4 linked regions of the Homo sapiens genome follow. The protein of the gene in region 1 interacts with the protein of each later gene in a pairwise test. Each region holds a gene or a part of one and is shown in the gene's direction. Other genes may lie near its edges.

The links.
Region 2: the proteins of CT55 (region 1) and LYPLAL1 interact in binary tests that used the Homo sapiens proteins (3 or more experiments, as listed by UniProt).
Region 3: the proteins of CT55 (region 1) and FAAP20 interact in binary tests that used the Homo sapiens proteins (3 or more experiments, as listed by UniProt).
Region 4: the proteins of CT55 (region 1) and KLC3 interact in binary tests that used the Homo sapiens proteins (3 or more experiments, as listed by UniProt).

The regions. Positions count from the first base shown.
Region 1 is NC_000023.11:135,167,640-135,176,530, reverse strand, and holds the start of CT55 (cancer/testis antigen 55), read left to right. Parts: upstream 1-5,132; 5' UTR 5,133-5,359; coding exon 5,360-5,453; intron 5,454-6,752; coding exon 6,753-6,937; intron 6,938-8,891. UniProt on the Homo sapiens protein: Plays a role in spermatogenesis, possibly acting in the regulation of the autophagy pathway.
Region 2 is NC_000001.11:219,168,292-219,177,209, forward strand, and holds the start of LYPLAL1 (lysophospholipase-like protein 1), read left to right. Parts: upstream 1-5,586; 5' UTR 5,587-5,599; coding exon 5,600-5,690; exon of another isoform or gene 5,691-6,013; intron 6,014-6,669; exon of another isoform or gene 6,670-6,729; intron 6,730-8,918.
Region 3 is NC_000001.11:2,188,453-2,193,066, reverse strand, and holds the end of FAAP20 (Fanconi anemia core complex-associated protein 20), read left to right. Parts: intron 1-91; coding exon of another isoform or gene 92-209; exon of another isoform or gene 210-3,269; intron 3,270-3,285; coding exon 3,286-3,358; 3' UTR 3,359-3,519; downstream 3,520-4,614. UniProt on the Homo sapiens protein: Component of the Fanconi anemia (FA) complex required to recruit the FA complex to DNA interstrand cross-links (ICLs) and promote ICLs repair.
Region 4 is NC_000019.10:45,335,660-45,344,563, forward strand, and holds the start of KLC3 (kinesin light chain 3), read left to right. Parts: upstream 1-5,090; 5' UTR 5,091-5,187; intron 5,188-8,904. UniProt on the Homo sapiens protein: Kinesin is a microtubule-associated force-producing protein that may play a role in organelle transport. Plays a role during spermiogenesis in the development of the sperm tail midpiece and in the normal function of spermatozoa.

The DNA.
Region 1 (8,891 bases):
AGAAAGGAAACAAAAGGTACAAGTTATTTTGATAGTATAATGAACATACCTCACAGTGGTTAGGGGCACTGAACATCTGTGTTCCCCTAAAATTCCTTTGTTGAAGCTGTAATCCCCAATGTGATCTATATGGAGATGGGGCCTTTGGGATGCTATTAGGCTTAGATGGGATCATGAGAGTAGAGCTCCATAATGGAATTAGTATCCTTAGAAGAAGAGGAAGAGAAGCCACTGTTTGCTCCCACTCCTCCATGGGAGGAAACAGCCAGAATTTGACAATCTTTGAGCCAGAAAGAGGGCCCTTGCCCCGAACCGAATCAGTCAGCACCTTATTCTTGGACCTGCCAGCGTCCAGAACTGTGCAATATAAATGTCTGTGGTATATTGTTATAGCCGACAAAGCTAAGACAACGGAGAGCTGACATTGACATTCTGTAACAAATAAAAGCAATCCAAACACTTATTGTGTTTTGAAAAACAAAGATATGAATTGGAAAAACTCCCATCACATGAGGAAACCAAAATTCCCATCGATGGGAATTGTCCCTATCCATTAAATCATAATGAATAATATACTTATTGATACATGTCATTTAAAGCCTTGTCACTCTATTCTTATAGAAATATTTGTCTAAACACTAGTCCAACACTTATTTCCAGTGTAGCTTTTGTAATGAAAGGAGTAACATTTTACTCCATGGTGCAACTCATGTGCACGAGGGAGGCTGGATCACTGATCTGCAAGAAAACTCAATTTATTGGCTGATTTTACTTACAAGTTGCTGCTGTGTCAGACCCTGAGGACAGGTTGCAAAGCCAGGAAACAGCTGAGTTGAGCTGGGATCTAACGTCTTCCGAACCACAGTTCTGACGTTTACAGCCAGCTGTAACATTATTCTGAATGAGGCCCAGTACTGTTTAGATAGATGCACAAAGGAAAGCAAAGTATTCAGATTTGGTGTGAATTGCCTTAGAACCAGATCCTTTCTCAGGTTGCTGGAATGGTTCAGGATGTTACCCTTTTCTGATTCAATTAATTGCTGTGGTATTTATTGAGAACCTACCGTGTGCCCAGCACTGTTCTAGATGCTGAAGGCCCAGCAGATGGAAAAAGCAACCACGAACAAAAGCTCTGCAGTCATGAAGCTGACATACAAGTGGGAAGAGACCGACAATAAATACTCTGATAAGCATATGAATAAGTAAGAATTTCCGTCTAGCAGTTAGTGACAGAAAGAAAAGTAAGCAGGTGTTTGTGATAAGAGGTTTTTGAGGGCAGTGACCACGGACAGATGGTTTTCAATATTTTCAGTCGGAGTCAGTTTCCCTGATTTGAGAGTGAAACATGCAGGTCACTAGAAGCCAAGAAGGCGAATCACATGGTTATATCTTTGCTGGAATCTGGCACTGAATGATTGCTTCATGGATACTTGTGAAGGTGTGCATTTTGTTCATGGGAGACAGTTAAAATGTGAGAAGGTTTAATGGGGTGCATGGCATCCTTGTTCAGAATTGCTGTTAATCTACTTTGTGTCCAGCCCTTGTATATGCCAAGCACTGGGCTAAGGGCCTTGGGACACACACGTCATTTAATGCTCACAAAGAATCCTATGAAAGAAGTCCCAGTAGCGTCGTGTCCATTCAACAGCCAAGTCAGGGACACAAACAGGAAAGAGGGGGCGCACAGCTGCTCTGTGGCCCAGTGGAATTCATCCCCTGGCATTCAGGTCCAGCAGCCATTTCTTATCTGATGTGTTCCGGGCCTCTGGAGGCACCTCCTACCACAAAGATCATTCACAGTGTTTCCAGCAGGTTGGTATAGAAGAGCCCCTTCTTTGTTCTGCAGTATTCTCTCAGCAGGGACCTGTCTTCCTGGTGCTGGAATCTACCTGTAGCTTCTCTGCCAACAGAGTTTGAACCCTGCAGAGGAGGCTGAGTCTGACTTAGTGAAGTTTGCCAGAGAAGGCTATTTCTTACCTCTTTCTAAGGCGATTTCTTAGCACCAATCTCTTGCTGCAGCATCCGTTATTAGCTCTATTTGTGCCAGCAGGGACACATGAAAGGGTTTTGGGCATGTTTTCATATGTCTGAGTGGCTGCTGTCTCTTCGGTTCTTTCTGCTTTCTTCTGTGCCATGATGGAAACTAAAACATTTGACCCAGTGATGTTTTTTTTCAATCATTCTTTAGAGGTGGTGAGACTACAGGTATGTTTTCAAAGGATTGATAGTTTTTGCTGATGGATGGCATGGAGTGTGTAAAGAAAATGGAGAAAACTAAGGGTTATGGCAGGGATATGATGTTAACCCACTGTGTGAACTGAGCTGACATCGTGTGAGATGGAGAAGATTTATGGAGGTGAAGGGGTTGAAGGAAGCTCAGGACATATGAAATTTTGGACACCTTACCCTTGAGTCGTCTATGGGATAATCACGTGTGTAACTCAGTATACATATGGAATTGGGAGTACGTGCACTTAGATGCCATGGGGCTGGTGTGTGGATAGAGAGGCCATTCAGGGTCTGAGTCCTGGAGCACTCTTGTGCAATCCTGATAGGAGGAACTTCTCACAAAAGAGGCTGAGAAGGAGTCTTTCTAGGAGAGAGTGGTCACACAGAAGACCAAAGAACTTATTTCAAGAAATGGGGAGTCCTCACCTGCGTCAAACACTGAGAGGTTGAGTGATGAGAGCTTAGCATATTGACCACTGGATTTGGAGACCTGGAGGTTTCCTGTCATCTTAAGAGCAAATTAGGGGCATGATGTGGGTAAAAGCCTAATGCCAGAGGAATAAGGAGAGAATGGGAGCTCAGGAAGTGAGCAGAGGTGATTCTTGAAATAGCATTTGCTGTGGGGGACAGGATGCAGAAGAATGGGACTGAAGGGGAAATGAGGCCAAGGAAGCTTATTTATCTATGTACATTTTTAAGATGGGAGTTATTTGTGAAGTTTTTAAGATGGGTGATTCTTGTGTATGTTTGTATGTTATTCCTTTGCAGGCAAAGATTAAAAAAAAAAAAGATTGTTGATGCAGGATGAAGAGAGGCAACAGCAATAGAAGCAACATCCTCAGAGAAAATGTGTCAAGAGAATGGTTCCATGTGCTCAGTGGAGTTTCAGCCCTGGCCAGGGGCTGCGATGTCCTTCCATTGTTACAAAAGAGAAGGAAGAGAAAGCCAGGATGGGTGCCAGGAGTTTCACAGAGGGGCTCCTGTTTCATGGCCTGTGTTTTCTCAGAGAAATAAGAGGAAATGTGTGCTTACCTGTGTGTCCTAATTTTTCATTGATAATCATAGAATATTGGAGTAATCAAAATTTACAAGAGCAGTTGCTGTGGGTTGAATTTTGCCCTGAAAGAGATATGCTCAGGTTCTGAGCTCCAGTACCTGTGAATGTGACTTTATTTTGAATAGGGTCTTTGCAAAAAAAAAAAAAAAAAAATCAAGTTAAGATGAGGTCCTACAGGATTGGGATTAGTCATATACCCTTAATCCAGTGAGTGGTGTCCTTATAAGAAGAGGTGTATTGGACACACAGACAGATGGAGAAGAGCACCATGATATGAAGGAGGAAGAGATTGGAGTGATGCATCTACAACCGAAGGAAGCCAACCGATGACTACTGGCAACCTACGGAATCTTGGAATAAACTCTCCCTCAGAGCTTGCCAGAAAGAACCAACCTCACGGAAACCTTGATTTCAGACTCATAGCCTGCAGAACTGCAGAAGAATAAATTTCTGTTGTTTAAAGCCACGCAGTCGTAGTAATGTGTTGTGGCCTCCCTAGGAAATTAACACAGTTGTGTTACATTTTGAGACATAGATAGCCCTCAACCGATCCTGTTAACCAGATGATAATCTTCAGCAATGCTCTTACCTGTTCTCACAGTAGGAGAGGAAAGACAAACAGGTTTCATCCACAGTGCCCATGGATTGCATCAGAATCATCCAAACTGTTCTCCTTGCTTCCTGCTCTGACCTCTTCCAGCCTGTTCACAACCAAGCACCTGGAGTGATCCCTGGAGGCTCCAAATCCTTCAGGGACTTTACGTGTCATGGACAATAAAAGCCAAAGGACTTCCAGTGCCCCACTATCCCACATGCAGCCTGAACCTCTATTATCTCTCTTACCATACTTCCCACTCTTCTAGCTATTCACTGCCTCTGCTCTAATCACTGCTTTTCTTTGAATACATCACGCACAGTCTTGCTGTATGGTCTTTGCACAAACTGTGCCCTCCGTCTGAACGGCTCCTCCAAAAATAGCTGCCTGGCTAACTCCAACATCTTTCTCAACTATTGCTTTCCAATGAGGGCTACTCTGACCATGCTATTGTAAAGTGCAATCCAATACCCCATGCCCAGCACTGTGGATCTCCCTTGTCCTGCTATATTTTTCCATGGCATTTATTGCCTTCTAACATACCATATATTTTATTATGTGATGTTTAGTGTCACCCTTTCGTCATCCTGTGAAAAATCTACCCTCACAGGGTGAAGATTCTTGACTCTTTCATTCATTAACAAATTTTAGGAACACAGAACAGTGTCTGGTTCACAGTTAGTGCCCTACAAGTTTTGCTGAATGAATGAATAAGGGTAATGTGTATATCAGAGTAATGTAAGCATAACCAGGTAAGCGATGAGTACATGGTAGCAATGATCATAAAAGGATTCTATTATAAATTATCACTGGACTAAAAATGGCAGTCCTAGTACACAAGACACGTACTTGCCATCACTAAAACATTGCCTACCCACATGATGCCCTCTCTCCACAAAATTGATCCCTGGTGAGGAGTAACTATTGACCGCCCACTGAGTGGTGACTCCTTATGCTAAGCACCACGAATACAAGGGCAGGAGCAGGATTTTTGGTTGCACAGCCGGTGTTTCAGGCACCCATCCTCCCAGGGAACCCAAGAGAAGAGCCCTGTATCTCCTTAGTAAATGCAGAACCCAAGCTCCCAAGCCATTTTCCCCAGGCCATCCTAATGGCTCCCTCAGCCTTGATGGGAGAAGCCACGATGTTCCCACCCATCGCCTTTTAGTAGCCACAAGAACCTGCCCGCCCACCCACTGCACGCCCATTGGTTGGACAGTGGTAGAGGCGGGCCCTGACGAGCGCATGCTCAGAGGGAGAAGTCAGCGGAGAAGCTGGGAGCTCCTTTGGAGGCTGCGGTGTCCCTGACTCTCCTGAGGGGGGCTCACTAACGGGTGGGTCCCATGCCACAGTGTCTGAGGAGAAGCAGGAAGTGAGTCCCTGAGGAGACGCCGTGACCTGAGGGCTTCCCTTACTGAGGAGGCCTCGTGCTTCATCTGCCACAAGCGGTGCCCAGGCCGGTGGTGACAACTGGGACGATGCTCAGGCTTCTGAGACTTGCTTTGGCCTTCTACGGGAGGACGGCCGACCCTGCAGAGCGACAGGGCCCACAGCAGCAGGGCCTCCCACAAGGTATTCCTCTGTGTGTCCCCTTGTCCCCCACCCCAGAAGCCTCCCAATAGGGGTTCTCCTCACCCCCGGAATGAGGCTGTTGTAACTCGGGTGGGTACTGCACGTGACGGTGGCTCCATCTTGTGCGTGCATGGGGAGGCAACCCGAGGCAACCCGAGTCCTCAACAATTCCCTGAGAACCAACCCCCAAACTCTCCTGTCCATCTAAAGCGGGAAGGTGTTGACAGAGAAGACCTTGGGGTCTGTACCGCCTGTGCTTTTCCCCCACGTGGTCGCACAGCACATGCCTATTTATATTTCCAGTAGGCGAGAAACTCCCTAATTTGCGAGTTAATTTAGGCTTGTATCCCAAACGGGAATGTAATTTGAAGCCAAGTTGATGCCTCATACTTATCTGATCCCAAAGGAAGGCAGAGAACCCCTGCCGGCGACTGCTGAGGTTTGATCCCTAAGTATTGCTGATCAGCTAGGCTTGTGCAGAATAAAAAAAAAAGAAGAAGAAGAAGAAGGAGAAATAAAGAAAACCATTCAGATGCCGTTTTGGGCTAGCCTTCAATCTCCAGATATCTTTTAGTACTTTGTCTGCTGAGATGGTTAAGTATCTATAGAAGGTGCTACTCATCATGTTGGTGATAATGATGAAGGAATATAATAGGAGCAGAAGCTTAAAGACTCATATGTAGAAATGCTAACAGGTAACATTTACACACTCTTGTGCAAGGCACTCAGAGCTCTCGACAGTTGATGTGCATGTGTCAGTTAATATTCGTAAGCTGGGCGCGGTGGCTCACACCTGTAATCCCAGCTCTTTGGGAGTTCCAGGTAGGTGGATCACTTGAGGCCAGGAGCTGGAGACCAGCCTGGGCAACATGGCAAAACCCCGTCTCTATTAACAATTCAAAAATTAGCTGGGTGTGACGGTACACACCTGTAGTCCCAGCTACTGGGGAGGCTGAGACATGAGAACCACCTGAACCCAGGAGGCAGAGGTTGCCGCTAGCCCAGATTGCGCCACTGCACTCCAGCCCCGGCGACAGAGCCAGACTCTGCTCAAAAAATTAAAAAATAATTAAAAATTAAAATTTTTAAATTTTAATAAATTTTTAAAAATATTTTAAAAACCTACAACAACCCTATTAGGCGAAATTGTGATTGTTGTGGATTGACAGATGAAAACAAGGTCAGAGACGTTATAAAACTTCTCTGCCCAGGGTTATGCAGATGGTGAGTGTAAGACTTACTTGTAGTAGGTGTTTGCATTTGAGGCTAATAATGTGACCTTGTTTCTTTATCTTGTAGGTGACACCCAGTTGACAACTGTGCAGGGAGTTGTCACAAGTTTCTGTGGTGATTATGGCATGATTGATGAGTCGATCTACTTCAGTAGTGATGTTGTGACTGGCAACGTGCCTCTAAAAGTTGGACAAAAAGTTAATGTGGTTGTGGAAGAAGATAAACCACATTATGGATTGAGAGCAATCAAGGTGAGATGTGCATGAGTTTGGGAATTGTGTCTTATCCCAGTGGGCTTTCTTTCTCCATCTTTCTTTTCTTGAGTTAATCCGACATCTCTGCTGTGATCCGTAGAGTGGATGTAGACTGCAATTTGAAGCCCCCCTCCTCTGAAGCTGTAGCTTCTTCTGTTGTAATATTTGTAGTAATTTGTGCTGTAAAACATAAAAGCTTACTTATCTATTATTCTAGTCTTTAAACAATATGAGTAACAATAATAATTATTGAACTCTTTATAATCTTACAACTTCCCTTATCAGGTAAAAAAACATTTTCTGTAGTGTGCATTCAAAACAGTGGAATTTCTATGTCAAGCCATGTGCATTGTAAATATTTTAAAAAGAGCTTCATGGAATTATAATTCACCAACCACAAAACTCTCTTAAGGGTACAATTCAATAACATTTGCAGATTTACGGAGTCCTGGCAACATCACCTGAGCCCAGATATTTGCCCATTCAGTGGCTATTATGAAATTATTCTTTAGCTCTATTGTACTAATTGATTCTCTCAGCAATAGGAGGTGAGACTGCCCATCTGCCCATATAGGCAAGGACAACAATACTATCGATCTGAAATCTTTGCACATATGAGAAAGGAAAAGCAGTCTCATCATTCATTTGGAATTATTAAGGGTCTTCATGAGATTACAGTAAGTTTTATTTCTTAGACCTACTGATACAATAGGGATATTTATGGCTATCTCTATGGTAGGAAAATTAGATTTGTAATAGGAAAGTTTGTGTATGAAGCCCTTGTAGTATTTCGTCTGATACCATCTTTTTCCTTTGCTTTATGTCTTTCATTCTTTTACAGCATTATTGAGATATAAGTCACGTGACTATACAATTGGCCCACTTAGAGGGAACAATCTAGTGGTTTTTAATTTGTTCACAGAGTTATGCAATCATCACCACAATCAACTTTAGAACATTTTCATTACTCAAAAGGAAGCTCTTCGTGCTCCCCCAACTGTCCCCTCCCCCAACAACATCCAGCTCCAGGAAATCACTTATCCACTTTCTGTTTGTATATATTCTGGACAGTTAAAAAAGGTTCCTTCTATACAACTGTAATTATATGTTCTTTCACCAACATCTTCTCATTCCTCTGTCCACCCTAACAACACAAGCGTCTGGTAACCACCATTCTACTCTACACTGCTATGAGATCAACTTTTTTATCTTCTGCATGTGAATGTGACCGTGCAGTATTTGTCTTTGTGTGACTGGCTTATCTCACTTACATATCATTCTCCAGGTTCATCCAGGTTATTTCAAACGGCAATATTCTGTTCTGTTTTATGGCTGAATAGCATTCCCTTGTGTATTTATACCACATTTCCTTTATACACTCATCCGTAGATGGACACTTAGATTGCTTTCATTTCATAGCTATTGTGAATAGGGCTGCAACAAACATGGAAGTGCTGACATCTCTTTGACACACTGATGACACTCTCTTTGGATACATGCTCAGTAGTGGGATTCATGGATAGTGTGATAGTTCCATTGTTAAAATATTGGGGAATGTCCATACTGTTTTCCATGGTGGCTGTAACAATTTACATCCCACCAACCGTGCATAAAGCTTCCAATTTCTCCACATCCTTGCCAACACTTGTTATATCTTGTCTTTTTAATGTTAGCCATTCTAACATGCGTGACTCGGTATCTCTGTGGTTCCGATATGCATTACCCTGATGATTAGAGAAGGTGAGTGTTTTTTCACATGCCTGTTAGCCATTTGTATGTCTCCTTTTGAGAAATGTCTATTCAGGTCTTTTGCTCATTTTTAATAGGATTATTTGTTTTCTTGCTATTGTGTTGTTGGAGTTACATTTTGGAAACTGACCCCTTACTAGATACATAGATTGTCAATGTTTTCTCCTATCGCATAGATTGTCTCTCCACTCTTTGATTGTTT
Region 2 (8,918 bases), on another chromosome or scaffold:
TCAAGATTCATCCATGTTGTAGCATGTGACAGGATGTTTTTCCTTTTTAAGGCTGAATAATATTCCATTACATGTATATATAATATTTTATTTATCCATTTATCTGTTGATGGACATTTGGGTTGCGTCCATCTCTTGGTTGTTGTGAATAGCACAGCTATGAGCATGAGTGTACAAGTACATCTTTGAGCCCCTGCTTTCAATACTTTTCGGTATATACACCTGCATCCATTTTTAACCTACACAAAGAATATCTGCTCTTGAAGACTGACACTTTGCCATCAATCTATAAGAAAGTAAATTCTTTGGAAATATGATAAGACAAAATAATTGTATTAATTTGCCTTTCAAATATAAACTAAGGTAGATTTTTCAAAGCGTCTCGATTTTCTTCATATATAGTTATAATAAAAGAAAATCCATTGTCATACCTTGATGCCAATTATACATATATAGAAAATATTCATAAATATATATACACAGAGAAATATGCACATACACAGACACAACCTGAAAATAGTCTACTTCAGAATAAAGTGCACTTCCATTTTTCAAATTGCAAAAATTGACTTTATATTTTCTAATTATCTTTTTTTAAAGGTCTTTTTAAATTTTTTTTCCTGGCTTTTAAAAGTAATCACAGAAAGAGTAGGAAGAGATTAAGGCTGCTAAACTCAGCCATACAAGGAGGAAGGAGAATCACATGTGCTGATCTTTCTCATACTACTAACTAAAAGTTTATGTAGTGCAATTAAGAGTTTTGAACCATTATTTTATAAGTAGAGTTAAACATCAGAGGTATATTCATAAATGAGTGGCACATGTCACATATTTAAATTCTTTCAGGATCTCAGAATGACAGAACCTGGGGCTTCTCCATCAAGTCCTGCTCCCTTATTTCACAATTGGAGAAACGTGTCCAATGAGACTAAATGGCCTGTCTAATTTACATAGCTTGTCATCCCCGAGGCTGGAACAGGAACTCCTATCATTTCATTACTTCAACATTTTTTATATCTACCTATCTAATCTTCTCTTAAATGAATGTAGCAAAATACAGTAGATATTCTGACTGCATTCATAAGGAAATTACTCTTTTGGCTTTTATTTCTTTTCTTTGTAATAGACGTATGCAATGCAATGACTTCCCCTCATCTCATGGTAGGATTTGAACTTCCCTGCCCTCAAGGGCCCAAAACCTGATTAGGGGTTGCTGTTGATTCTTGCCCTGGATTTCAAAAGCCTGAAAATTTGTTATAGAAGAAAAAAGTAATAGGTTCTAGAGTACAGAGACAAATATGAAGATTGCAGGAGGGATTCCTCAGACTCATATAAGCACTGAGTGGAAGTTGAATAAGAAGTGTTTCCAGAGGGTAACTTAGGAATTTGAGAACTGGCCATAAGAGGTGTCCAAATGGAAGAAGACCCATTTCCCAGAAAAGAGGAGACAAATGGCAATGCAAAGAACATTGTTCTGGTGTCCAAGCATAAACACTGACCCTGTAGCCTGCACCCAAGGGAGGAAAGTTCACTGTCCTCCTCTAGGGCCTACATACTGCTTTGGTGTGTATCATGTTGACTGTTAATAATCCAGCAGAGTAATCACTATCCATTCTCCAAGGCTGCGTTTGGTCTGTGTTTGAGGAGCTCATGTATTCCCCTACCCCTACTGCCAATGCCATCTCAGTCCATCTCACAATGCCCCACGTGACCCATCTGCTCTAAAAAGAGAATGAGACCATGCACATCTAGTAGTAAGGTAAAGTAGAGGAATGACCCATATCTGTATCTGGAAAGACTGGACTGAAAAAGATTAAGGTCCCCAGAACTGAGGCAATGATTATGTTAAAGTTTATAATCTCATTTATAAAAAGTATAGTTTTGCTGTTTTGTAAGAATTCAGGACCTTTAAGTTTGTTTCTAGTTTTTCTTTCATGAATGGACAGGGGGAATGCATAAAAGAAATCATTTTATTTATCTATGACAAAATGTTAAATTACCTAAAGCTGAAGCTGAAGCATTTTGTGCAATGTGTATATATTGTTTATATATATATGTGTGTGTGTGTGTGTGTGTGTGTGTGTGTGTGTGTTTCTCTCTCTCTGAATGATGCAACAGATGAAAACTAACCAATAGAGAGGATATGGTTTGATGCTTAAGAATGAGCCAAACAACAAACGGGAAACTGTGTACTGTCTGCGTGACAAATGCAACTTCATTTAACTGTTATCATTTGAAAATACCAAGTATACTAATCTTGTTCATTGTTTTTGTTTCTTTTTTGAGACAGAGTCTTGCTCTGTCACCCAGGCTGGAGTTCAGTGGTGAGATCTTGGCTCACTGCAACCTCTGCCTCGGGGTTCAATCAATTATTGTGTCTCAGCCACCGGAGTAGCTGGGATTACAGGCATGCGCCATGATGCTCGGCTAAGTTTTTTTGTATTTTTAGTACAGATGGGGTTTCGCCATGTTGGCCAGGCTGGTCTTAAACTCCTGGCCTGAAGTGAACCGCCTGCCTTGGCCTCCCAAAGTGCTGGGATTACAGTAAGCCACTGCACCCAGGCAAAATATACTAATCTTAATGGCTGAACTTTCAATTGCTTTTCTGTTTTGAAAACTAAGTGTGGCCTAAAGCATTTCTCAACACACTGAAGAACAGTAAACTAAACTCCGACTTTGCCATTTATATCGTTAGATCCTAATTGATATTGAAACCCTGCAAAACAGGAGAACTTTTTCTTTTTCTTTTATTTTGTTTACTTGCTTTTTTAAGTTTAGAACTGAAGTTACCAAAAGGAGGTGCATATAGATTGGCAGAAAGCAAATGAGTAGCAACAAAAAATAATTAGGAGCTATATAAAGAGTAAAAGAATGTATGAATAGGAATCTTCCAGTGATAATATTCCCCCACCTTCAATAGGGCAAAAGATCCACCACAAAAGCAAATAGTCATCTTGAAACTTAATTACATTTCAAAGTAGTACAGTAACATGAAAGGAACAAAACATTTTTGTTCAACAGTTTGCCTACCAGATGGGATCTCTAAATATAGGTAATCTAAAACCTTTGCTTGTCCTATAAACAAATACAGATGAAAGGAATAGCAACAATAGCTAAGCATTTAAATCACTGGAAATAAAATAGCACTTTGGTTAAGTGTGGAAGAATCTGGCTCATTCTAATAATGAATCTGGGAAGGCTGGAGTTCTCAGTGAAATTCAGAATACAGAAGGTTGCTTCTGGTATTTACCACCTGCTTATCTACCTGTTTAAACTGGTAGAATAGTTGGAAGAACAAATCAGGAACTAATAGCAGTAGACTTGGGAAAAACTAAAGAAGCACAGGAACACCTAATAAATAGAGACTCTAAAGGGCCACAATACAAATTCCAGACTTTTGTTTTTGAAATAAGAGTTGCGACATGCCCTTGCTTCATTTCTGTGCACTCATGTGTAAATGTGGGTAATAGTTAAGAACCTATGCTCTGGAGTCAAGCCCAGCATGTGAATCCAGGTTCTACAATTGACTGGCACTATGACTTTGAGCCAGGTTCCTTACCTCTTTGAGCCTCATTGACAAAAGCAGATAGTAATAGTACTGAGTTTTATTGGAATTAATTTATGACAGTTTTTGGCACCTACTGAATCCCATGAATATTAGTTGCTTATTATTATTAATAATCATTACTCTTAAATAATTATATTCTGATTTTTTGCTGTCTCAAAAGCGTGGGGTGGTGTACAGTAAGATTTTCAGGTAGTAAATGGAGTTCTAAGAGTAGAACTTAAAGCCTTCCCTGTATATCTCCAAGTGGTCTTTCCTAGTAGCACTGCCCTCTTCTCACCTGGCTAGGGAAGGTTATCTAGAACTCATACGGGGAAGGCAGGTCAAAAGACAGAGGTTTTTCTTTTAAGAATTGGCTATCAGAGCTCAGCCTACCCTAGTTTGTCCTCCTCAGGGACTTCACTTATACAACTCTCTGCTGCAGATCTATGGGCTTTGGAGAAATGACTCAGAATTTCTTTTTGATTTGGTTAACTAATGGCATGTAGGACCATTCTTGTTGATGGTATTGTTATTAATATAACACCATGATAGCTTAGAGCTGATTTTGGCAACTAATGTTGATAGTAAACAGTTTACTTACCTGTAAGTAGGGTGATTACCTGGAACAAATAAAAGGTAAGTTGTAATTGCTAAAATGTAATGCAGACTACAATGAATGGAAGGCCAGTGTTTAATGGTACTTAAGCTTTTACTGGGTTATTTTGTTGAATTTTACATGAGGCAAGAGCAACCTGCTGGGGCCACTGCCTTCAGTATTAAAAGATACCTATGTTTTGGACTTTATACAGGAAATAATTCCATTTCTTAGTATTTTTAAAATTATGGTAAAATACACATAAAATTTACTAGGTGTATAGTTCACTGGCAGTTATTAACACTGTTGTACAACCATCATCACTGTCCATTTTTAAAAATGTTTCACTATCTAAGCAGAAACTCTTGTACTCATTAAACAACAACCTCCCAACTCCCTCTTCCCTTAGTCCCTGGTAACCTCTAATTTCACTTTCTGTCCCTATGCATTTGCCAATTCTAGATATCTCATGTAAGTGGAATCATACAATTATTTGTCCTTTTGTGTCTGGCTTCACTCGGCATAATGTTTTCAAGGTTCATCCATGTTGTAGCATGTATCCGAATCACATTCTTTTTACAGGCTGAATAATATTCCATTCCAATATGTACATAGCACATTTGGTTTATCTCTCCATCTGTAGATGAACATTTGAGTTGTTTCCACTTTTTGGTACTTGTGAATAATGCTGCTACAGAACACTGAAGTACAAGTATTTGTTTGAGTCCCTGCTTTCATCTCTTTTGGGTATATACCTAGAAGTGGAACTGCTAGTACCTATGCTAAGTCAATGTTTAACTTGTTGAGGAGCCACCAAATTATTTCTATTGCCGCAACATCATTTTACATTCTGATCAGCTATGCACAAGGTTTCTAATTTCTACACATCTTTACTAATACTTATTTTCTGTTTTTTTGATAAGAGCCATTCTAATGGGTATATAAAGCAGAATCTCATTAAATTAGATTTGCTTTGTAAACTATTTATTAAAAATAAGAGACACGAAGAGAACTTATTATTATATGCTTCGCTTACCCTGTATATCAAGAGCTGCAAACATCCTGTGCGAGTCCCAAAGTGAAAGGTAAAATATGGTTCTATTAAATTTTAAACATAGTAACACGAATATTTCTCCAAATAAGGTAATCTTGAGTTTTGGGATTGCATTTAAAATTCCTACAGCAAATGCTCAGGATATAAACATATCCATTAGTCATTACAGAAGTCCACACGAGGCTGACACACGTAGAATACCATTATTAGCAAAACTAAACTCAGTACAGTTACAACTGCCTCAAACTTGACCCCAAAGTATTGAAAGCTCCTCAGAGAGCGGGCCAGCAGCGCTGCGCATGCGCGCTCCCGGGCGTGCTCCCGCGCGTGCCTGCGTATTTGCGTGCGCGGCCCCGCGCGGCAACGCAGGGGCGGAACCGCATGACTGGCAGTGGCATCAGCGATGGCGGCTGCGTCGGGGTCGGTTCTGCAGCGCTGTATCGTGTCGCCGGCAGGGAGGCATAGCGCCTCTCTGATCTTCCTGCATGGCTCAGGTGGATTTCAATTTTACGTCCTGGTTTTCTACAGCTCGGGAAACATCCTCCCCTCGGTTACCCCAGTATTGCCCAAGTGGAGGTGTCGCCGGGCCCAAATAGGGCCCAGTGGGTGGCTCCCCCGTCGCCAGCCCCGGCTGTAGATGCACGGGCAGCGCCACCTGCCCCCAGCCTCCCCCGTTAGTCTTCCTCTTTCTATCGGGCGGTCACTGGTCCACCACCCTCGCTTTGGGGCCTTGTGTCCCGCCGCTCAGCCAGCCCTCCATCCCCACAACACACCTCCCCATTCCTCGCCCCAAGTTTAAACAGAGCAAGTTAGTAAGGTAAGTCTTCTGCTAGAGGGAAATTATTTAGTGTTTTTCATTATCAGCTACTAGTGATTTTTCAGTCGTAATTGCCCATTGCTTTTTCCAGGCTCCCATACTAATGTAGACAATTGAGATTCACAGTTAACTTAGATACTGTTTACAGATTATCTCTTTTCTGTAAGCCACTGTGCCATGGCTGGAGTGCTTTCTCTCACTTTCCTTTTTGCTGCTTCTCTTTCCTTCCTTTCCCTTTCCCGCCTGTGTCATTAAACTTCCAAGATAGACTACAGGGGCAGGACCCCCAGGGACAGGCATCTTCCACTACCTGCCCTTAGTAACGTGTGCTTAATGCTGTATCGTTACTTAACACTCATCTGTAATCACTTTTGTCTGTCTTCCCCACTGGATTGTGAACTTCCCACTGGATTATGAGAGTAAGGGCCCTTGTGTCAACCTTTGCACCCCCAGTGCTTGGCCCAGGGTAAGCTCTCAGGAAATGTTTTTTAAAGAAATGAGATGCAGCCGGTGTCCTCAGGGGGCCTACCTAAAGTTAAAAACAAAAACAATCCAATTAGTTTGAGTCAGCAGTGCATGGAAGATCACAAGACGGTGCATGGTTTCCTGCCAAGTGAATTGTAAGAGAAAAAAATGTGGTTAGGCATTATTAAGGCATTTGGAAGATGAAAAGCTTGTCAGACTTTTCGAAGAAAGTGGTCTTTGAGCCGAGACGGGTAGGCTTAAATGGGACGGTGATTGGAAGGGAATTGGAAAGGTACTGGGCAGAGACCTGGAAAAGGGCAATTGTGGGAGGTATTCTCTTTATTTTGAAAATGAGGCCAGACAGGTTCAGCAGCTTGGCCAAGGTCTCTTAGCTGTTACTGTGAGTAGTGGCGGATTTGGGATTAGAACCCAAAGCTCTCCGACCTCAAACTCAGGGCTTTGGTGGGGTAAGGTGAAAAAGTTTGAACTAGGATATATTGTTTTGGAGATAGGGAAGAAGAGGTCCAATAGTGTTTAAAGGGAAAGACGGCATATATTTAGAAGGTGACGTGTGTAAGATGACAGCGGTACTTAATAACTAGGAGACTGGTAGTACTATTTAGGGCTCCAAGAGTGTTCATTTATAAGTACCCAGAAATTCCCCAACACTGTACCCTTTCTCATAATCAATTCTCATTATCTTTAGGAAGAACTCCTAGACTATGTTCTTTTTTCCCCTGGACCTCTTTGCTTAAAATAATTATCCTTTTTTTGAATTTCAGATTACATTTTTATAACCTGTAAGGGTATGTCTCTAAAATTCAGAGTCATGTATGTATGTATTTTTTCCTTTGTACTTTGAACCAAGAATTTATTCAAAGAATTCTGCCAAGTATGCGAGTATAATGTGATTCCTATATATTTAAATCTCCACTGAAGTAAATAAAACCTTATTGGGAGTAGGTCTTTATCATCTTTATCGTTGGGAGTAGGTCTTTATCATCCAGTAGGTCTTTAGCAGCTAGTGATTTTACATTCAACTTTAATGTATGTGGTTATGTTATAGGAGATGTTTGGTTTCTGCTTAACTAGAATATGGGCAAACCAATTCTGTTTTATCACACTCAGTTTTGCCATACTGTTAACCAGTTTTAACACTTTTACTATGGAATAAAGTACTAGCTTTTTAAAAAGTGGACATTGGGAATGGATAGATGTTGTTTTGCAGCTGCATTCTTACTCTTCGAGGCTGAAAAAATGTTGTTAAAGACAGATTTTGTGTTTTCAAATAAAAAACCTTAAAAGCTTGAGATTTTCTTCTAGGAGATAGCAGCCATAGAAGAACATATGGGAGTGTAAATTATATGTAGCCAACTTAATTTGAGCCTTTTCTATTAATAAAGTACTAAAGACGGACCTTCTTTTAAGATGATAAAAATAAATGATAGGTTAATGAGTTTTGTTCAGTCTCTCAGATCAGATTAATTCACTCTTATTTGCTCCCATAGGACACTGGTTCTTCTTTCAGTGGTAGTCATCATACTTGTAATTATGTAATGTAATGTCTGTATTCCACACTAAGCTAGTAGGTCCACAAAGCCCAAACCATGTGTCTTGTTTATGGCTTTCTTCTTGTGTGGTAAGGCTCAGCAAGTTGACTGAGTAGCTTCTTGGTAAAGTCACCAGTAAGCTCAGGCTCTATGTCGCTCAATGTAATGGACATTTTCAGTCGTCCTCTTACGTGAACTGTCATCTGCATTCAGCTTTCTTCTCAAAAAACTCTCCTGGTTCTTTTTCTGTCTTGATTTGCTCCTTCTGGTTTCTTTTGCAGACTCATCCTCCTCTACCTGGCCATTAATGATGGGGTTTCTCTAAATTTGGTCCAAGGTCTTTTCACTCTACATTTTTCTCCCTAGGCTAATCACAGAAGTCTCCTAGAGATACCCATTTGTGTCACTGGTGTATAGGTAAAAATAGAACCTTTGAATTTCTGTGGAGATTCATAGATTCTATTTTTGAGCTCTAGACAAGTTCATCTAACTGCCTGATAGACATTCATTCATGAATCCATTCATTCAAGAAATATATCACAGCCTCCATGTGTAAGGCACTGTTCTGTGCTCTGATCATACAGCAATGAAAAAAACAAATCACTGCTCTCATGGAGCTTATGTTCTAATGAAGTAAATAAATACTATAGTAGAAGGTAGTAAGTTTTATGGAAACAAGGAAAGCAGGATAAGGGGATTCTTCCATGGATGAGAAGTTGGAACAGTGTTACAATTTTAAATAAAGTAGTCAGGTTATGCCTCACTGCAAAGATGACAGAAGATGAAACTTCACAGCTAGACTTAGACTTGGCTTTAAAGCCAAGTCGGAGGCTCCAGGGTAGGGTCCTTGACATGTTCAAGGAACAGCAGTAAGGCTAGTGTGTCTGGAG
Region 3 (4,614 bases), on another chromosome or scaffold:
TCGTAACTTTTGGTTGAGTTAATGGGCGGCAGGTTTCAGAGCTTATGGAGACCAGGTCCTTCAGTCATGCCTGATGCCCCTGGTCTTCCAGAAGCAAAAACAGCTCGGGAATGCGAAGGCACCGGAGTCCAAAGTTGGCAGCCAACAACAACAACAACAAAAGAAAAGGCCGGGCACGGTGGCTCACGCCTGTAATCCCAGCCCTTTGAGAGGCTGAGGCAGGTGGGTTGCTGGAGCCCAGGAGTTTGAGACCAGCCTGGGCAACATGGCAAGATCCCATCTTTACATGCCTGGGCGTGGTGGCGCGTGCCTGTGGTCCTAGCTACTCTGGAGGCTGAAGTGGGAGGATTCCCTTGAGCCAGGAATTGGAGGCTGTAGTGAAGTATGATTGCACCACTGCACTCCAGCCTGGGTGACAGAGTAAGACCCTGAATCACGGACAGAGGGTACTGTTGGGAGCCCTGGGGAGAAATCCATGCTCTTGGCTGAAGCTCTGAGATCCTTGTTGCTGTCAGGGTGCTGCCCCCCGCCCCCCGGGGAGGGGCTTTTGTCTTTGCATCGCCTGCTTTTCCAGATAGTCTAAAAAAAGACTTCTGAAGACAAGGACGTTCACGAGGAAAAACTTGCCATTTTGAGCTTTTTAAGCAGTTGCTGAAAGCTTGGCAGACTGCCTCAATTTTTCCTAAGTAGGCGTCAATGAAGTCAGGTCCAGGCCTTGGTGTGTCTGGAATGCTTCAAGCACATTCGAACACTTGATCGTAAGGGAGAGCCGGTACTTTGGAACCGGAACTCACCCGAGGCTGTGGCCACCGCATGGGCAGGCTAGCTGGGGGACAAGCCCCATATCTTTGGGAACAAGGGTTTGCACAGCCACCCTGGGATGCCCTGGGACTCCTGACCGCACAGGACCCCAGCAGGGAGGCCGCCTGGATTGGAGGGTCTGGTCTAACAGCCGGACTTGGTCTTGAACCGTCGCCCTGTCCCGCACAGGCGCCTGCTGAGCCTGGAGCCCTGGCAGAGGCGGGTCTGGGGAGTGGAGCTGCCAGGAGGCCTCCCATTTCTCACAGCCTTGGTGTTCTCCGGGTCACCCAGAGGACCGTCAAATGCTGGATTTGACAAACTATGTAGAATGTTCTTTGTGTCTTTAAGATCTTCTTGTGGTCCTATTTGGACATTTTGTGCATTTTCAGACACCTGCGGGTCACGTGGGTGGATGGGAAGCTGGGCACCTGGTGAGGGGTGAGGATGTTGAGAGCCAGAGCTGCGTTTTGTCTCTGTTGATGTGGCGAGGCCCTGGGTTGGTCACTGGGATTTTTTTTTTTTTTTGAGACGGTGTCTCGCTCTGTCGCCCAGGCTGGAGTGCAGTGGCATGATCTCGGCTCACTGCAACATCTGCCTCCCGGGTTCAAGCGATTCTCCTGCCTCAGTCTCCTGAGTAGCTGGGATTACAGGCGTCACCACACCTGGCTAATTTTTGTATTTTTAGTAGAGACAGGGTTTCACCATGTTGGTCAGGCTGGTCTTGAACTGATCTCAGGTGATCCGCCCGTCTCGGCCTCCCAAAGTGCTGGGATTACAGGCGTGAGCCACCGCGCCCGGCCGGTCGTTGGGATTTTAACAGCCCTGAGGCCCCTCACGCTGCCAGGTGCCAGCCCACCCTGCAGCCCTGCTCCCCTGCCCACACGCAGAAGCCACCAGAGGCTTCTGGACTGAGCCCCCACTGTCCTGCAGCCGGGCTGGCCTGTCCACACCACAGGGCGTGCTCAGCTACTGAGCAGAAGCGTCACGGACAGGGCAGATCAGGCCAGGACAAAGCTCTTCCGCCACAGGCGGGGGTCTGAAGGCATCTCAGAGGGCCCCCAAACAAGGGACGCTGCCTGGAAACCCCGGGACAAGATGACCTCGGTTCAGATCTTAGCACCTTCTGGCAACCTTAGAGAAAGCTTCTGGAGGGAGGGGCTGGTTCCCAGGATGGGCAGAAGCCGGAAAGTCTCAGACTGAGTGACCCTCGGGGGCTTCAGAAGGCACTGGGTGGGCTCTGCCAGAGTGAGAAGGCAGCTGATGGCTGCTGGAGCCAGCCCCGGGAGTGGGGGTCCAGCTATGGTCTGGAGAGGGGGACTTGAGGGTTGCAGTGGCCACACAGACGGGGCACAGGAGCCAAAGGAAGGGACACAGCAAAGCCCAAGGGTAAAACGGCGCGCCGTGGACTGGTCTGAGGGCAGAGGCTGTAGGGGAGCGAGGGGCGGTGTGGCTGACAGGTGGACACAGGGACACGTGTCCTGTGGACTTGGCCGCTCAGTGGGGGTGTGTCCCCCAGCAGTGGCGTGTGAGGGATGGTCACTCTGATGGGACACTGACCACTTGGCCTCCAGCAAGATCTAGGCCCAAGTCTAGGCTGAAGCCGCCCACTCAGCCCCGGGACATCGTCCCCGGCAGCTCTGCTGAGCACGCCAGCTCCGGCACTCTCCGGGAGTCATGGCCGGAAGTCAACTGTCCTGGCTTCCAGGGCCACACCTTGGCCAGGCCTGGTGATGGTCATTTCCAGCCGCTCCAGTTGGGCTGATGGGGCCACATGAGGCCGGGGATAGAAGGTGGCTGCGCTCAGACACCCCTCCCGGCCCCACTGGATGCCCAGGGCGCTGACCTGCAGGACTCGGATGGGTTTTCTCCTGCCACCCCTGCCTGGCCGGCCACCATCCCAGCGCCAGCGCCCTCCTGAGAGGTGCAGGGGCCGCGTGGGGCCTCCCAGAGTGGCAGGTTGGCAGCCTGCACGCCGGTGACGGCGTCCTTCTCCGTGGTGAGGCTTGGTCCCTCCTCGCCAGAAACACCAATTCTCTGACGTGAGCTGCACATCCACTGCCCAGCCATGTTTACTCTTCTGCCTCCTGTAGACGCAGCCGCGGCGGCTCTCCCTGGCAGGCCACCCGCCGTCCTGCCTTTTCTCCGGGTCAGGCCGCCTGTCTGCCGGGCTCCACGATGAGCGCGTTCTCAAGCTGAGCAGGCGCCAGAATCCCATAGAGAGGCTTGTTGAGACACAGCTTCCCCACCCCCAGCTCGGACGCAGGGGCCTGGCGTGGCCTCCTCACGGGCACGGTGTGGAAACACCACTGGCGGTTACCGTGGTCTGCCGGGTGCATGAGCCCCTGGGGTGGCCCCGTCCCTTGTTTCTGACCAGCCGGATCCTCTCCAGCGGCAGGAGCAGAGAGGGCCCGGAGGTCCAGACGGTGCTCTCTGCGGCCAGCATGCCGCGGAGGTGGCCGAGTGAGTGTGGCCCCTCCCTTGCAGGCTGACCCAGCTGGATGTTGACAGCCACCTGGCCCAGTGCTTGGCCGAAAGCACAGAAGACGTGACGTGGTGAGCGCCATCCAAGAGCCCTGCGCAGAGTGCGGCGCCCGGACACGCTCTCCCCCGCCAGCAGCCCCGCCTCTCGGCTCCCCCGCCAGCAGCCCCGCCTCTCGGCTCCCCCGCATGCGCATTAAAGCAGGGCGGGCTCCTGTCTGTCTCTGTGTTGTGATGAAACGTCTGCCGCTTTTCTTTCTGACGTTTGGTTTAGGGCAGATTCACTGCAGTGCAATCAGAACCAGACACAGCCCCAGGCGGGGAAGCTGACCCCTTTCCCCTGGCGCCCCCACTGTGGACAGCGGACGGGCTGAGGGTAGCTCGTTTTCCTAACTTTGTGGACAGGCGTGGTTAGCTCATGTGCAGTCACGGTTTTTTTTTTGTTTTTTTTTTTTTGAGACAGGGTCTCGCTCTGTCGCCCAGGCTGGAGTGCAGTGGTGCAATCACGGCTCATTGCAGCCTCAGACTCCTGGGCTTGATGATCCTCCCACCTCAGCCTCCTGAATAGCTGGGACTACAGGCGCGCGTCACCACACCCAGCGACTTTTAGTATTTTTTGTACAGATGGAGGGGTCTTGCCATGTTGCCCAGGCTGGTCTCGAACTCCTAGGCCCAAGCGATCCTCCCGCCTTGGCTTCCTGAAGTGCTGGGATTACAGGCGTGAGCCAGCAGCCCCAGCCTCTGGTGGCGTTCTTTTTGTTTTTTTTTTTTTTTTTCTTTTTTGAGACGGAGTCTCGCTCTGTCGCCCAGGCTGGAGTGCAGTGGCGCGATTTCGGCTCACTGCAAGCTCCGCCTCCCGGGTTCACGCCATTCTCCTGCCTCAGCCTCCCGAGTAGCTGGGACTACAGGCGCCCGCCACCACGCCCGGCTAATTTTTTGTGTTTTCAGTAGAAACGGGGTTTCACCGTGTTAGCCAGGATGGTCTTGATCTCCTGACCTCGTGATCCGCCCGCCTCGGCCTCCCGAAGTGCTGGGATTACAGGCGTGAGCCACCGCGCTCCACCATCGGTGGTGTTTTAATTCCCCAAAATGAACTTGCAGCTGCAGCTAGTTATGAAAAGGAAAGGCTCCTGCCACCGTGTGCTGCGGGCCTGTAACTCCCCAATCCCTAGGTTGAAATCCTCACCACAAGGCAAGAACTCTGCCAGGACAGGAGGTCGGGGCGGCGCCTCTCGATGGGATTAGTGCCCCATAATGGAGACCCTGGGGAGTTCCCTTGCTCCTTCTACCGTGGGGGACACAGGCCAGAAGAGGGCCGTCCTCTGGAGCCGAGAG
Region 4 (8,904 bases), on another chromosome or scaffold:
CCAGCAGTTTGGGGGGCTGAGGTGGGCAGATCACTTGAGGTCAGGAGTTTGAGACCAGCCTGGCCAACATGGTGAAACCCCATGTCTACTAAAAATACAAAAAAATTAGCCAGGTGTGGTTCCTGTAATCCTAGCTACTCAGGTGGCTGAGGCAGGAGAATTGCTTTAGCCCAGGGCACGGAGGTTACAGTGAGCCAAGATCACGCCACTGCACTCCAGCCTGGGCGACAGAGTAAGACTCTATCTCAAAAAAAATAAATAAATAAATTTTTTTTTGTAGAGATAGGTTCATCCTATGTTCCCCAAGTTGGTCTCAAACTCCTAGGCTCCAGCAATCCTCCTGAAGCCCTGGGATTACAGGTATGAGTCACCACATCCGGCCAGTTTCCTCATTTTTAGGTGGGGCTGGTAATAGTGCCTACCTTGGGGGGTCAGCTACAAAGATTCTGGGGCTCTGCTACTCCTTGGCTGTGTGACCTAAGACAAGTTACTCAGCCTCTCTGTGCCTCATCTTTTTCACCTGTGGAATGGAGCGAATCATCGCAGCTGGTGTGAAGATTAACAATTTGTATATAGGAGTTGGCACAGGGCCAGTCTGGGGTAAGAACTCAAACATCAGCCATTGTTGGCGTTGTGCAAAAGTACTTGGAACACCGCTGGCCTAAAGGAAGGTTTTCCTGGCCAGGTGTGGTGGCTCACGCCTGTAATCCCAGCACTTTGGGAGGCCGAGGCAGGCAGATCACGAGGTCAGGAGATCAAGACCATTCTGGCTAACACGGTGAAACCCCGTCTCTACTAAAAATACAAAAATTAGCTGGGCATGGCGGTACGTGCCTATAGTCCCAGCTACTCCGGAGGCTGAGGCAGGAGAATTGTATGAACCTGGGAGGCGGAAGTTGTAGTGAGCCGAGATTGTGCCACTGCACTCCAGCCGGGGAGAAAGAGCATGACTCCGTCTCAAAAAAACAAAAACAACAACAGCAGCAACAAAAGCAAGAAAGGTTTTCCTTAGTTAACACTTTCTTCTTCTTTCAATCTTTATCTCATTTAAGTCTCACCTCAATGCTGTGTGATGAGTGTGATCATCCCCATTTTACTAGACGAGGAGACAGAGGCTCAGCCAGAGATCATTGTTCCCCCGGTTTACATGGAACAGAAATGGCAGGGCCAGGATTTAAACCTAGATCTGCCTGGCTCCCCGCCCGGCTCCATCCCCTGCCCTCCCCCAACACACATAGTATTTACCGGGTGCTACCCTGTTCTAAGCCTTTTCTGGGGGATTATACAGTAATCCTCACCACAGCCTTAAAGTAGGGTACCCTGTGAGTCTCGTTTGACAGACTAGAAATCTGAGGTCCAGAGAGGTTACTTCTTGGCTCAGAGGGTCACACAGCTAGCAAATGACCCAGCTGAGATTTGTCCCTGCTGGCCTGGCTCCAGTCCCTGCACTGCCTGTGGTAAGCGTGTAGCAGATCCAGATCCAATGTCCAGCGTCGTGAGGCCAAAAAAATGGGGGGCAGGGGGAAGGCTCTGCTGCCCCTCGATCCTGTGCTGTTGAAATAGCTGGAGCTAGCACTTTGGAAGGCCGAGGCGGGTAGATCACCTGAGGTCAGGAGTTCGAGACCAGCCTGGCCAACATGGCGAAACCCTGTCTATACTAAAAATATAAAAATTACCTGGGCGTGATGGTGCACACCTGTAATCCCAGCTACTCTGGAGGCTGAGGCAGGAGAATCATTTGAACCCGGGAGATGGAGGTTTCAGTGAGCCGAGATCATGCCATTGCACTCCAGCCTGGGCAACAGAGACACTGTCTTTTTTTTTTTTTTTTTAGGGGATGGAGTTTTGCTCTTGTTGCCCAGGCTGGAGTGCAATGACGCCATCTTGGCTCACTGCAACCTCCGCCTCCCTGGTTCAAGTGATTCTCCTGTCTTAGCCTCCTGACAAGCTGGAATTACAGGCCCATGCCACCAAGCCCGGCTAATTTTTGTAATTTTAGTAGAGACACGGTTTCATCATATTGGTCAGGCTGGTCTCGCCCTCCTGATCTCAGGTGATCCGCCCTCCTGATCTCAGGTGATCCGCCCTCCTAGGCCTCCCAAAGTGCTGGGATTATAGGCATGAGCCACCACTCCCAGTGAGATGCTGTCTTAATTAAAAAAAGGAAGAAAGAAAGAAATAGCTGGAGCTTGGCACAGTGGCTCATGCCTGTAATCCCAGGACTTTGGGAGGCCAAGGCAGGAGGATCGCTTGAGGTCAGGAGTTCAAAACCAGCCTGGGCAATATAGGGAGACCCCCATCTTTACAAAAAACAACAAAAAGTAGCTGGGTATGGTGGTGCATTTGTAGTCCCAGCTACCTGGGACTTGGGAGGCTGAGGAGGGAGCATTGCTTAAACCCGGGAAATCAAGGCTGCAGTGAGTTACGACTGCCACTGCACTCCAGCCTGGGTGACAGAGTGACACCTGTCTTTTAAAAAAGCTAGAGTAGGCCGGGCATGGTGGCTGACGCCTATAATCCCAGCACTCTGGGAGGCCGAAGTGGGTGGATCACCTGAGGTCAAGAGTTCAAGACCAGCCTGGCCAACATGGGAAACTCCATTTCTACAAAAATATAAAAATTAGCAAGGCATGATGGTGGGTGCCTGTAATCCCAGCTGCTTGGGAGGCTGGGGCGGGAGAATCGCTTGAACCTGGGAAGCGGAGGTTACACAATGAGCCAAGATCGTGCCACTGCACTCCAGCCTGGGCAACAGAGCAAGACTGTCTTAAAAAAAAAAAAATGCTGGAGTAGTTAGGATATGAGTTTGAATTTTTATTTCCATGATTCAATCAGCACCTATTCTCCCAAATGCCTTCTCTGCGTTGGGCCTGTGCTAGGTGGCACTGGGGACACAGTGGAGACTGACATGGCCCCTGGCCGCCTCCTCCCTTCTTGGGGCTCATAGTCTAATATGGGACTGACCTGTCTCCCCACACTGATGACCCAGAGTTGGCAGGGCTGGATGTGGGAGCCCAAGAGCCTGGAAACCTGGGAAATAAGAAAGGGCTTCCTGGAGGAGGAAGCATCAGCACTGGGGCTCAGACAACAGGGAAGTAGAGGGCACGTTGGCTGCAATTCGGAGGGAGCGCGGAGCTGTGCCGAGTCTGGAGTTTGGTCCACGGACCAGCAGCGCCCTCTGCTGGAAGCATTTCATAGTGTAGTGACCGGGGTACCGCGCGCATTGAGCCATGTATGTATGTATGCATTTATTTATTTTTGAGATGGAGTTTCGCTCTTGTTGCCCAGGCAGGAGTGTAATGGTGTGATCTCGGCTCACTGCAACCTCTGCCTCTGGGGTTCAAGCGATTCGCCTGCCTCAGCCTCCCAAGTAGCTGGGATTACAGGCGTGCGCTACCACACCCGGCTAATTTTGTATTTTTAGTAGAGATAGGGTTTCACCATGTTGGCCAGGCTGGTCTCGAACTCCTGACCTCAAGTGATCCAGCCCCCTCGGCCTCCCAAAGTGCTGGGATTACAGGTGTGAGCCACTGCGCCGTCCTCAAGTTATATTAGAATCGTGTCCTCCCAGCTTTGGCCAGCTTACTATTCTAGGACTTGATTCCTTCATTCAGTCACAATTTATTGAGCACCGACTTTGCATCAAGCTCTTGCTGAAGATAACAGTGCTGACAATATACAGCCCTGCCCTCAGAGCTTATATAGTAGAGGAGAAAAAGTGAACCCATAATATACAGTCAGTAGCGAGTATTTACTAAGTACTTTCTATTTGCGAGGCCCTGATAAAAGTACTGTCCTGGCCAGGCGCGGTGGCTCACGCCTGTAATTCCAGCACTTTGGGAGGTCGAGGTGGGCAGATCACCTAAGGTCAGGAGTTCGAGATCAGCCTGGCTAACATGGGGAAACCCCGTCTCTACTAAAAATGGAAAAATTAGCTGGGCATGGTGGCGGGCGCCTGTAATCCCAGCTACTCGGGAGGCTGAGACAGGAGAATGACTTGAACCCAGGAGTTGCAGTGAGCCAAGATAAGATAGCGCCATTGTACTCCAGCCTGGGTAACACAGCGAGACTGTGTCTCAAAAAAAAAAAAAAAAAAAAAAAAGTACTGTCCCTGTATTAGTTAACATTCAATTCTCAAAGCCTTAGACTATTTATATTTTATTGACTAGGGAAACTGAGGCACAGAGAGGTTAAGTTACTTGCCCAAGGCCTGCACAGCAAGTAAGTGCCGGAATCAAATTTGAACCCTGAGCCCAATTCTTAGATATCACATTCCCTTGCCAATAACATAATATATAACATAACATAATGATGTGATATATGTTATATAAAATAACTTTAGGGGCCGGGGGCGGTGGCTCACTCCTGTAATCCCAGAACTTTGGGAGGCCGAGGCGGGAGGATCACTTGAGGTCAGGAGTTTGAGACCAGCCTGGCCGACATGGCGAAACCCCGTCTCTACTAGAAATATAAAAAGTAGCCGGGCGTGGTGGCAGACACTTGTAGTCGCAGCTACTCGGGAGACTGAGATGGGAGAATCGCTTGAACTTGGGAGGTGGAGGTTGCAGTGAGCCGAGATCGCGCTACTGCACTCCAGCCTGGGTGACGGAGCGAGACTCCCTCTCAATAAATAAATAAGGTAATTTTAGGCCCTGAAAAGTTTTGTGAACAAAATCAAGAGGAGTATGTAATGTTTTGGTGGAAGGGTGCCATTTAGAAGGGGGCAATCAGGGAAGGCCTGCCGGAGGAGGTGGCCTTTGAGAAGAGACCTAAAGACGATGAGATCTGTGGGAAGAGAGATCGAAGCAGGCCACACAACCAAGGAAAAGGCTCTGGGGCAGGCACTGCAAGAAAGCCACCTGTCTGGGATCTAAAGTTTCCAAAGTTTTAGCTTGGCCAAGGCCCCTGCGCTACAATCACCCTGATTCGAGGTGTCCTGGAGGTTACCAGTTCCGCGTGCGAAGTTCTGCCATTCCCGCGGGGCTGGAGCCCCGAGGCTGAACTTCCCACGGGCGGTGGGCGTGGCCGGCTCACCTGCGGGGGCGTGGCTCCCGGCTGCCCCGCCCCTCGGAGGAGCCGCCCGAGGTCCCAGACGCCCGGCGCAGCGGGAGCGGCGGGGCGTGCCTGGCCTGCGGGACGCGACTGATCGCAGTGGGGCGAAGCGGGGCCGGAGCCGCCCGCGGTCAGGTGGGTGCCGGGAGTGGGGCGCGGGACTCTCGGAGAGCCGCGATGATGGGGGGCGGGGGCAACCCTGGGCCCGCTCGCCCTGAGACGGGGAAGGGCCTTGGGGCTCCCGGATGCCCCCTGCCCCGTCCTGGGGCTCTCCGGGATCTGGAGGCCTGGCTGGGGTCCCATGCCCCCCACCCCAGCGCAGGTAAACAGCGAGGACGGGGCGGGGCCTGGGAGGGAGAGGGAGGGGGCCCTTGTGACTGCGGGTGAGCCTGGTGCGCGGGGCTGGGCAGGCCAGGGTAAGTTGGTGCGGCTTGCGGGGCTGGGCCACGATGGGAGTCTCCTGCCTGCCTGTGTTTGTGTGTGTGTGTGTGTGTGTGTGTGTGGCTTTGCGTGTGTGTAAGAGAGTGTGTCAGGCTGTGGGTATGAGGGTGAAAGCGACTGTCCGTGTAACCCTGTGATGGGACTGTGTGTATGATGTGACACTTTTAGCAATGTGAAAACGTGGGCGACCTCTGACTGGAATGGTGTGTGTGTAGAATTGGATTGCTGGTAGCACTTTACGACCAAGAGCTAGTGCGACTGTAGTCGACTTTCTGCTTGGCCTGATGTGCATGTGTGTGGCTGTGTGTGTGGCTGTCTTCATGGCAGAGAGTGGAACTGGTTGTAGGATTAGGTGTGATTGACCAAGAGGCTGTGCGGCTGTGGTTGTCTTTCTGCCTGTTGGTGTGTGTGTGTGTGTGTGTGTGTGCGCGCGCGCGTGTGGTGGACAGTGTGGCACTGGATCAGTGATAGGTGACTATGATTGACTTTTGATTGTGTGTCACTGTGATGGTGCATGGGGCTGGGCGGAACTGTGTCCAGAAGTGGAGCTGTTTCATGGGACGGTGCGCGTGGAACCTTGGGGTTGGATGAGTGAGGTGTGGAGGTGTGTGAAGCCGTGTGTGCGTGTGTGTGTGTGTGTGTGTGTGTGTAGAGAGGAACTAGAGGGTGTGTGATCTGCATTGATACCGTGGCTGGCAGTGGTGTGCAACGGAGAGTTTGTGGGAGATGGGAGTGGAGACGTGGACATTTAAGTGGGATGCTCCTCCAAGCGGGTGACAGGATGGAAAAGGGGGTCCGCGTCAGGGATCAGTGTGTGGGACTGTGCCTATGATTATCAGCTGTGCGGTTGTGCACCCGGGGCTCTGTGTGAGTGTGGGAGCTGCTGTGTGTCTGGGACACAGCCCGAGTGCTGGATGGCTGTGGTTGAGCCGTGTTTGTTGCTGTGGTTGTCAATCTGGCTGTGGAGTGGTGTGTGTAAGGCTGTGTCTGAGGTTATAGAGGGAGGTTTTACATCGGCAAAATTGTGTGAAGAATGGTTGTGGTTGTCAGGATGACTCTTGAACCTGTGTGGTTGTGAGTTCAACCATTTATGATGTTTGTGTGTGAGGTGTGAGAATAGGTATGGTGTGATATACACAAGCACACAGATTGGCCGGGTGCAGTGGCTCATACCTGTAATCTCAACACTTTGGGAGGCTGAGGCGGCGGGGATTGCTTGAACCCAGGAATCCTAGACTAGCCTGGGCAATATGGTGATACCCCGTCTCTACAAAAACAAAAATTAGCTGGGCATAGTTTAGTTTTTTAAAAATTAAAAAAAGGTTGGCTGGGCGCGGTAGCTCACGCCTGTAATCCCAGCACTTTGGGAGGCCAAGGGGGGAGCGGGTGGATCATTTGAGGTCAGGAGTTTGAGACCAGCCCGGCCAACATGGTGAAACCCCGTCTGTACTAAAAATACAAAAATTAGCCAGGTGTGGTGGCGGGCACCTGTAATTCCAGCTACTTGGGAGGGTGAGGGAGGAGAATCGCTTGAACCTGGGGAGGTGGAGATCGCAGTGAGCCAACATCATGCCATTGCACTCCAGTCTGGGCAACAGAGCGAGACTCAGTCTCAAAAAAATAAAATTAAATTTTTTAAAGGTTGATATATACATCACATATATACACATACATATATCTAGAGAGAGGGAGAGATCAATGACGATCAAGTCTGTGGTGCACAAAACGTACAGGACCCTTACTGTATGTGATCGTGCATGTACAACATGTGCAAAAACCGCTGGGCTGCTTATGGTGGATGCAGTGGCTTGAGTGAAGTGTGCGAGAACGTGGCATCCCTCCACGCGTATTCACAGCTCTCTGTTCCGACAGTGGAGCTGAATCTGAGTACTTGTGTGTGCATGGCGTGTAGGTGTGGGAGTCCCTGCTGGCCAGGCCTGGAGTGGGAGGGAGAGGAAGTAGGGAAACTGGCGAGGGATCCATAGTGAATCTTGGGAGTGTGTGCATCTGGAGGTGCGTTGGGCACATTGTGGGGAGTTGGCTGCTTGGGAGCCATGTGAGTTCGGGGGACAGCGAGTGTCACGGTCAAGTGCAAGGAGATGGTCTGAATGTGAGTGATTTGGGGAGTGGGAGAGACAGAGTTAGTTTCTGCGTGGGTTGGCTTTTCTTTCTTTTTTTTAAATAATATTATCACTTTTTGACACGGAGTTTTGCTCTTGTCACCCAGGCTGGAGTGTGGTGGCGTGATCTTGGCTCACTGCAACCTCCGCCTCTCAGGTTCAAGCAATTCTCATGCCTCAGCCTCATGAGTAGCTGGGGACTACAGGCGCATACCACCATGCCTGGCTAATTTTGTATTTTTAGTAGAGCCGGGGTTTCACCATGTTGGCCAGGCCAGTCTCAAACTCCTGACCTCAACTGATCCACCCACCTCGGCCTCCCAAAGTGCTGGGATTACAGGCGTGAGCCACCGCGCCCAGGCTTGGTTTTTATTTCTAAGAGAATATACCTGTGTGTTGGGAGTGTATACAGATTGTTTTTGAAAGAATAGTATATGTGTGTGCCTGAGTCAGTGTGTTGTCTTAGGTTGTATTTCTAAAAGGAAAATGTAAATGTTTTTACTGAGTTGTATATTTAATAGGAGAAAGTGAGTGCGTGTTCTAAGAGGAGAATGTATATTATGCTGTCCTTTCTTTCTTTCTTTTTTGACTGGGTCTTACTCTTTCACCCAGGCTGAGTGCAGTGGCACTATCATGGCTCACTGCAGCTTCAACCTCCTGGGTTCAAGCAATCCTTCTACCTCAGCCTCCAGGTACACCATCACCACACCCAGCTAATTTTTTTATTTTTATTTTTGTAGGGATGGGGTCTCACTATGTTTCCCAGGCTGGTCTTGAACTCCTGGGCTCAAGTGATCCTCCTGCCTCAGCCAAAATCCCAAAGTGCTCGGAGTACAGGTGTGAGCCACCGCACCCGGCCTACATTGTGTTTCTAATGAGGGAGTGTGTGTGTGTGTGTGTGTGTGTAACTGTATTTCTGGGAGGGTGTGTGTGTGTACCGTCTTTTTTTTTTTTTTTTTTAAATGAAGTCTCACTCTGTTGCCCAGGCTGGATTGCAGTGGTGCGACCTTGGCTCACTGCAACCTCCGCCTCCCGGGTTCAAGCAATTCTCCTGCCTCAGCCTCCCAAGTAGCTGGGACTACAGGCATGCGCCACCATGCTCTGCTATTTTTTTTTTTTTTTTTCCAGTAGAGACAGGGTTTCACCCTGTTGGCCAGGCTGGTCTTGAACTCTTGGCCTCAAGTGATTTACCCACCTTGGCCTCCCAAAGTGCTGGCATTACAGGCGTGAGCCACTACACCTGGCCCCATGTTGTATTGGAGAGAAGGGAGAGTGCGTGTGTGTGTCAAAT